Regions from separate parts of the Homo sapiens genome. Here region 1 is linked to region 2. Evidence: fine-mapped expression QTL. A gene starts in region 2. The other region holds a variant in brackets. All regions are shown on one strand. Distances are from middle to middle.

Region 1 (4,400 bases), 82 kb after region 2:
CAACTTTTGGCCGGGTGTGGTGGCTCATGCCTGCAATCCCAGCACTTTCAGGGGCCGAGGCGGGAGGATCGCTTGTGCTTAGGAGTTTGAGACTAGCCTGGGCAACATAGCAAGTCCCTGTCTCTACTTAAAAAAGAAAAAAAAAATGAGCCAGATGTGGTGGCACGCAGCTGTAGTCCCAGCTACATGGAAGACTGAGGTGGTAGGATCACTTGAGCCAGGAGGTTGAGGCTACAGTGAGCCATGATCACACCACTGCACTCCACCCTGGGTGACAGAGTGAGACCCTGTCTCAAACTTTTTTAAAAGGCCAGGCATGGTGGCTCATACCCATAATCCCAGTACTTTGGGAGGCCAAGGTGGGTGGATCACTTGAGCCCAGGAATTTGAGACCAGCCTGGGCAACATGGTGAAACCCCATCTCTACTAAAAGTCAAAAAAATTAGGTAGGTGTGTTGGTATACATTTGTAGTCTTGGCTCCTTGGAAGGCTGATGTGGGAGGATTGCTTAAGCCTAGGAGGTCGAGGCTACAGTGAGCCATGATTGCACCGTTGCATTCCAGCCTGGGCAAGAGTGAAACCCTGTCTCTCTCTGTCTCTGTCTGTCTCTCTCTCTCTCTGTCTCTTTCTCTCTCTCTGTGTCTCTCTCTCTCTCTCTCACACACACACACACACAACTTATAAGCATCTCTTGTTTCTCCTAAAATTACCCTTCTAGCATTAGCTGTCCCATTAAAATTCTAATAGGCTTTTTTGTGGACATCTGCAAATTAATTATAAAATTTATATGGAAATGCAAAGGGCCAAGTAAGGGCCCTTAAAAGGGACAAAAATGGGAGAAATTACTAGATACCATGGCTCACCATAAAAGCTGCCTTGATTAAGACAGTGTGGCAGTGGTCAGCAAACAGTGGTCTGCCCCTGGGCCAACTCTGCCCACCATCTGTTTCTGTATGGCCCATGAAGCAAGAATGATTTTTACATTTTTAAATGGTTGAAAATAATTGATTGGTGGGGACAATGCTGGTGGAGTCTGAAGTTGTCATGCAGTGACTCACTCAAGGTTAGGCAGATTTGGTGATATATGACACAGAGATGCAAAGAAATGCTGTAGCTGACACACACAGGGTGGCTCTGGGAGATGCAGAAGGAGCATGTCACCCAAAATAGAGCCAGATAGACATCTTTAAGGAAGGAGCAAAGGGGCTGCATCTTAAAGAATGAAGAAGGGATTTGTCATGAGAGATGGGGCAGGAAGTTCTTGAGAGGCAGAGGGAGAGCATGAGAATGCTGGGAAGGGAGGAGAGATTCTCACACATCTGGGAAGCTGACAATTCATCAGCATGTCCGGAAGGAAAATAAGGAGGAGGAGCAGAAATAGATGAGGCTGGATATAGAAGCAGGGCTGAAGCTGTGTTGATCGTGGTAAAGAGTTGTGATTCTATCCAGAAGGCAATAGGTAGCATTCTAAACAGAGATCTCTTAAAACAAGAGTCAGCAAATATTTTCTGCAAAGGGCTAAATGTTAAATATTTTAAGTTTTCCAAGCCATATGGTCTCTCTCTTAATGACTCAGGTCTTCCATTATACCATGAAAGTAACCAGAGACGTTTTTTAACACATGTA[T/C]TGGCTGTGTCCCATTACAACTTTACTTACAAACGCAGACTGTGTCAGACCTGGTCCATGCATGGTAGTTTGCCACACCCTGTTTTAGAAAGCTCAGGTTTATGATGTGATGGAGAATGCCTACAAGAGCTCTTGTTTTAAATGGTAGAGTGAATATACACTGGAATTCTATCCTGCTTGACCCAAGCTCTTGATAGCGAAAGGTAGAAAAGATAGATAGTAAATAGATAGATAGATGATAGGCAGGTAGATAGATAGATGATAGATAAAGAAAATACATAGCTGTTCCAGAAAACAGAAATGGATAATTTCATGAACCAAAAGCAGAGTAATATACTTTAGAAAGGAAGCAGGCTGGAAGACCCACAGTTGCAAAGCAAATAGAATTTCCAACTGCCTCTTGTAGCCCCTTCCTGGAAGTAGTCACAGCCCAGGGTGTTCAACTTCTTCCTCTGTTTTTTGTTTGTTTGTTGTTTGCTTTTCTGTGGGGTTTTTGTTGTTGTTGTTTGCTTTTTAAAAAAAATCCCTTTCCCTGCTTTTTTGTCACAGCAGCCTTTGTCACTTCAAACACCGCAAGTGTTCTTTAAAAAAAATTATATCAACCTTTCAACTAAAATGCAACATGTCTGAAACTTGGTATCTGGAGAGGTGAGAGGGACAAAGGAGCCGTTGTTACTGCACGTTTTCATTCTCCAAACTTCACCTTGCACACAGTAACAGACAATGCACAAAGCTACTTCCTTATGGACGGAAATTCTGAAATCCTTTTATGCCTGGCCTTTCCATCCTTCAACTTCCCCTCTCCCATGCTGTGAGTGATTGTATTGGACATTTTTGTTTTAATCTCAGTGACAGGGGAACACAGATAGCTCTAATATAGCTGTGACCCAGATGCTTCTGTTTCTAGCATGTATTAATTTTGCAGCAAACATTACATCCATAATTTTTCACTGTCCTTTGAAAATAATTAGGCAATATCTCATCTGAGGTAGGATGTTTCTAGGGGTTGTGTTCTGAGTGAGAAAAACTAATCTGTTCTCTTTCCACTGCATTCTAGGAACAGTAAGAGGACCTTGTGCATGAATAATTTGTTTCCACACTGCAGAGTGGGTAATAAGCAGATTAGTAAAAACAATTCTGCTTCACTTCAATAACAGCCTCCTCCAACTCATTTTTTCTCAACAAACTTATTTTTGCAGCAGAAGAATCCCAGACTTCTTAGAGAACCCAGTGACTTTTTGCACCTTAAATCTGTGAAATCCTCATGCTTTCTTCTGCCGTATCCATCGTTCAAACAAACATGAGGCAAAGCTAGACACATTCCTGAAGGAACCCAAGAAATTCCTCTCTTTCTCTCTCTGGAATGAAATGAATTCTCTAGACCACCAGTTCTAACCTTCAAAAACCAAACCTGTTTGTGAGATCTCCTTCAAATACTACTGTAGACCCCAGTGTTTATTCATTAAATTTTTTAAATATTTGTTTTATTTGGAATCAAAGTATTTGTAATTTTAGTATTTGTATTAATATAAGGGAGAAATGTTTAAATCTGTCTATGCCATATGTGCCTTCGGCTTATTGCCCAATTAATTGTAGCCTCAGGCTAAACTTTGGTTTCTGTCTTTAATTTTTGTCGGAAGAAATATAACCGGTCTCAAAACATCTGCTTTTATTGTAGGGACTCGTGCTGCCATCTCCATTCCTCTCTCTTTTCTTGCAATCTGGGTGGAAGTTCTTTAATATGAACATTTCAACCACCTTCACTCTACCATGTCCACTATCAGCACATTCAAACGTATCCAGCCAAGGGTATCATCTTAGGCCAGGGATTTTTTAGGAATCTATTTTGCTGTGATGCACCTGGTACCCCTTTGACTCACTTTATCACCCCAGGGTTCTTTTCATTTTAGAAGCCCAAGAGGGCAGAAAAAGAAGTAGGTGAGCAATTAAACTCTCCAAGTCAGGAGCGTCTCCCCTTGTGTTAAGCAATGTTGTAGAACATCGTATTTAGCAAGCTCCTAGCAGATGAGCCACGTGGCTGCTGAGCACACACGCCTGCTTGCTGCTGTGAGCTCAGACACCATCATTATGTCTTTTTCACCTCTGGAGGGAATTGTAAGCGCCACTTAATAACCTGTAAATCGTAGAGAGTTAAAGGTGTTTCCCTAAAACACTGATGACAGAATGAAAGGTAAGGAGTGTTAGCCACAGGTCAAAAGTGCAGGAAAGTCTCTCTATGTGGGTTGTTGAAGAAATGCAGGTCTTTTTTCTTTTGGAAGTCTCCCTAGAATGGGGTCAAGGACTCTGCCCATTCTAGGATGAAAAACTGGGATATTAGACACCCTCAGATATTTATCCCAAGCTTTCATTTTGGGCTCTTAATTAGTTCATCCATCACAATCGCAAATGCTAAGCAGGGCAGTTGAATCTGTCTACAGTCCAAATCAGCACCTTCTTTTAAAGTTGAGTTTCTTATTATTCTCACCTGATATACCTTATTTATCCCACACCCACCCCAATAACATATCGTGCTCACTGTTATCTTTAAGAAAACACTTGAATTTAACTCAGCCTGGAGCTCTCTTCACATGTCTTGTCCAGATCCAGTTCGGACTCATTCTTCAGCCGTGCATCAGTCAATGGGGGCTAGGTTAAACTGTGGTGACAAACAACCTCCAAATTTCAGTGGCTCAAAAATCTTCTTCCTCATTTATTTACATTTCATCATGGGTCAGGTGAGAGGTAGCTCTGTGCTGTGTCATCCTAACACAGGA
Region 2 (4,400 bases):
CTACTTGAGGCTGGAGGGTGGGAGGAGGGAGAGGATCAGAAAGACTATCTATTGCGTACTAGGCTAATACCTGGGTGATGAAATAATCTGTACAACAAACCCCCCAGACATGAGTTTACCTACATAGCAAACCTGTACATGTAGGGTGATGAAATAATCTGTACAACAAACCCCCCAGACATGAGTTTACCTGTATAGCAAACCTGTACATGTAGGGTGATGAAATAATCTGTACAACAAACCCCCCAGACATGAGTTTACCTGTATAGCAAACCTGTACATGTAGGGTGATGAAATAATCTGTACAACAAACCCCCAGACATGAGTTTACCTACATAGCAAACCTGTACATGTAGGGTGATGAAATAATCTGTACAACAAACCCCCAGACATGAGTTTACCTGTATAGCAAACCTGTACATGTAGGGTGATGAAATAATCTGTACAACAAACCCCCCAGACATGAGTTTACCTACATAGCAAACCTGTACATGTAGGGTGATGAAATAATCTGTCCAACAAACCCCCAGACATGAGTTTACCTGTATAGCAAACCTGTACATGTAGGGTGATGAAATAATCTGTACAACAAACCCCCCAGACATGAGTTTACCTACACAGCAAACCTGTACATGTAGGGTGATGAAATAATCTGTACAACAAACCCCCCAGACATGAGTTTACCTGTATAGCAAACCTGTACATGTAGGGTGATGAAATAATCTGTACAACAAACCCCCAGACATGAGTTTACCTGTATAGCAAACCTGTACATGTAGGGTGATGAAATAATCTGTACAACAAACCCCCAGACATGAGTTTACCTGCATAGCAAACCTGTACATGTAGGGTGATGAAATAATCTGTCCAACAAACCCCCAGACATGAGTTTACCTGTATAGCAAACCTGTACATGTAGGGTGATGAAATAATCTGTACAACAAACCCCCCAGACATGAGTTTACCTACATAGCAAACCTGTACATGTAGGGTGATGAAATAATCTGTACAACAAACCCCCCAGACATGAGTTTACCTGTATAGCAAACCTGTACATGTAGGGTGATGAAATAATCTGTACAACAAACCCCCAGACATGAGTTTACCTGTATAGCAAACCTGTACATGTAGGGTGATGAAATAATCTGTACAACAAACCCCCCAGACATGAGTTTACCTGTATAGCAAACCTGTACATGTAGGGTGATGAAATAATCTGTACAACAAACCCCCAGACATGAGTTTACCTGTATAGCAAACCTGTACATGTAGGGTGATGAAATAATCTGTACAACAAACCCCCCAGACATGAGTTTACTTGTATAGCAAACCTGTACATGTAGGGTGATGAAATAATCTGTACAACAAACCCCCCAGACATGAGTTTACTTGTATAGCAAACCTGTACATGTAGGGTGATGAAATAATCTGTACAACAAACCCCCCAGACATGAGTTTACTTGTATAGCAAACCTGTACATGTAGGGTGATGAAATAATCTGTACAACAAACCCCCCAGACATGAGTTTACCTACATAGCAAACCTGTACATGTAGGGTGATGAAATAATCTGTACAACAAACCCCCAGACATGAGTTTACCTGTATAGCAAACCTGTACATGTAGCCCTGAGCCTAAAATAATAGATTATTTTAAAAAGATACTGGATTTATGAAGTCCCCAGGAGGTCAGGAGGAAGAGAGAACGCTTGAGACAAGCATGGTCAGTGAGGAGCTTGCAGGGATGGCAGAGGGGCAGGGAGCAGCAGAGTTTGAGTAGAGGAACCAGAAGCCCAGCCCTGGACCCATCTCTGCCTTCCTGTGTGTGCGCCTAACTCAGCTTTCAGGTGAGAGCTGGGGCTCAGGAGGTTATGTACTCACTTGCAGTTGCACGTCTAGGAATCCAGATGATGGTCCCATGTCTGCTGTGCCCCCGCCCTACTCTATTGCTAGGACAGCCAACCTCTACTCAGGGGCTGCAGCCGGTCAGCTGGCATCTACCAGGCTCAGCTGAGAGGGGTTCAGAGCCTAGAGGAGCTGTGGCATGCCAGGTCTAGGCTGCCTGTTGGCTGCTGTCAGGATGAATGCTGTTGTAGATAGATTCTTTTTGGCAACCAGAGACTTTCAGACGTCAATGGCCATGCAGTCTCCATGTTGCCCTTCCCATCCTGACACCACACACTCCTTATGCTGCAGCCACCATGGATGCCTGAGTGAACAGCCCTCAAATTCTATTCTAACTCCTTATTTAAAAGATAAGGAGACCCAAGACTGAGGAATTTGACATAAATAAGGAAACCGGCTTGCCTGAGCTGACTACTGCCTTTGGTCTCACGATAGCTGCCTGGTGGCCTCTGACTTTCACAGCTAGTACAACCTTCCAGCACCTTCCAGGATTGGTTTCTGAAAGAGGGGATTGTTTTTGCTCCCAGTCCCCCTAAACATTCTGTAGGTAATTACAGCACTCATGGCCCCATTTTCTCACTGTGTATTTGCCACCTTGGGTCTGTTCAGATGGCAAGCTCCCGAAAACCAGGCACCTCCTCCTTGTACCCATGGCACCATCGTGGTGCCTGGCTGCTGTCAGCACAGAGCATTAGCTCTGAGACACCTCCTCCTTGTACCCATGACACCGTCGTGGTGCCTGGCTGCTGTCAGCACAGAGCATTAGCTCTGAGACACCTCCTCCTTGTACCCATGACACCGTCGTGGTGCCTGGCTGCTGTCAGCACAGAGCATTAGCTCTGAGACACCTCCTCCTTGTACCCATGGCACCGTCGTGGTGCCTGGCTGCTGTCAGCACAGAGCATTAGCTCTGAGACACCTCCTCCTTGTACCCATGACACCGTCGTGGTGCCTGGCTGCTGTCAGCACAGAGCATTAGCTCTGAGACACCTCCTCCTTGTACCCATGACACCGTCGTGGTGCCTGGCTGCTGTCAGCACAGAGCATTAGCTCTGAGACACCTCCTCCTTGTACCCATGGCACCGTCATGGTGCCTGGCTGCTGTCAGCACAGAGCATTAGCTCTGAGACACCTCCTCCTTGTACCCATGACACCGTCGTGGTGCCTGGCTGCTGTCAGCACAGAGCATTAGCTCTGAGACACCTCCTCCTTGTACCCATGGCACCGTCGTGGTGCCTGGCTGCTGTCAGCACAGAGCATTAGCTCTGAGACACCTCCTCCTTGTACCCATGACACCGTCGTGGTGCCTGGCTGCTGCATTAGCTCTGAGACACTGCTGTGTTTCCCTCCTAGTTCTGCATCAGGTGGTACTGTTTTGTTTTGGTGGCTTGGTTCATTTTTTCTTATTGCAGTATTATCACTGCATAGAAAGCAGAAGTGGTCTTCCCATATTGTGTAAAATCCCCATTAAACATACACCACATGCTTCAGAGCGGCAGGAACAGGAAGAAGGATGGGATTCCCCGTGCCCGAAGGTATACCAAGTCTACATTGTCCTGAGAGTTAGGGACTACAAACACTTGTCCGTGCAGCATTTGGGAAGGTCAGAGGAGACGACTGTGTGGTGTGCATTGGAGAAGCGTGGGGCCCCTGTGCTCACCACCACCCTAAGCCCCTGTGAGGCAGGGGGCACCTGGTGCACTGTGACCAGCACTCTCCCAGCTTCCTGCCAGGAGGAGCCAGCTCCTTAGGTTCTGTAGGGTTTGACTTAAAGAAAATTTTAAAACGTGATTTTTCAATAAGTTGGTTGCCAAAAAATCTCTGTGGTTAAGGAGGCACCTCCCTCCTGGTCACTACTTCCCCCTGCCGAGCCTTCTGCCTGGGCAACTGCACCACAATCTCCAGCTGCACCATGTGTTTTGAAAAGCGTTTCTCCCCGCCCCTCTGGGGTTTTTCTCCTCCTCCAGTGGCGAAATTTCAGAGGGCACTGAGTGGGTTACTCTTCACAAGCACAGAGCTAAGCCCAGTCCTGGTAGAAAGCACACACAAAGAAGACCCAAGACCATGAATATGCTGACCTAAGTTGGACAGAACTGCTTCATGGCTTCCTGCTGTTACTCCATGGGTTTCTGATCCTGTTCTGTAGGTTTCTGCTGTTACTCTGAGTTCCTGCTATTACTCTGTGGGTTCCTGCTGTTACTCTGTAGGCTCTGCTATTACACTATGGGTTCTGATGTTACTCTGTGAATTCCTGCTGTTACTCTGTGGGCTCTGATGTTACACTGTGGGTCCTGTTTTTACTCTGTGGGTTCTGATATTACTCTGTGGACTCTGATGTTACTCTGTGGGTTCCTGCTATTTCTCTGTGTGTCCTGCTGTTACTCTCTGGGCTCTTGTGTTACTCTGTGGGTTCCGACATTACTCTGTGGGCTCTGCTGTTACTCTGTGGGTTCTGACGTTACTTTGTGGGCTCTGCTGTTACTCTGTGGGCTCTGA

The links. PIP is the estimated chance that this variant, and not a neighbour inherited with it, causes the effect.
Region 1: its variant is fine-mapped to the expression of LINC01880 in atrial appendage (GTEx, PIP above 0.99).

Annotation. Positions count from the first base shown.
Region 1 is chr2:242,164,362-242,168,761 of GRCh38, forward strand. No RefSeq gene overlaps it. Among named protein-coding and RNA genes, the nearest start is that of LINC01881, 78 kb to the left of the region's middle. The variant T/C (reference allele first, on the strand shown) is at 1,627.
Region 2 is chr2:242,082,216-242,086,615 of GRCh38, forward strand. It overlaps LINC01880 (long intergenic non-protein coding RNA 1880), which reads right to left and starts at 1,923. Exons shown (of 4, transcript NR_146651.1): 1 at 1,881-1,923.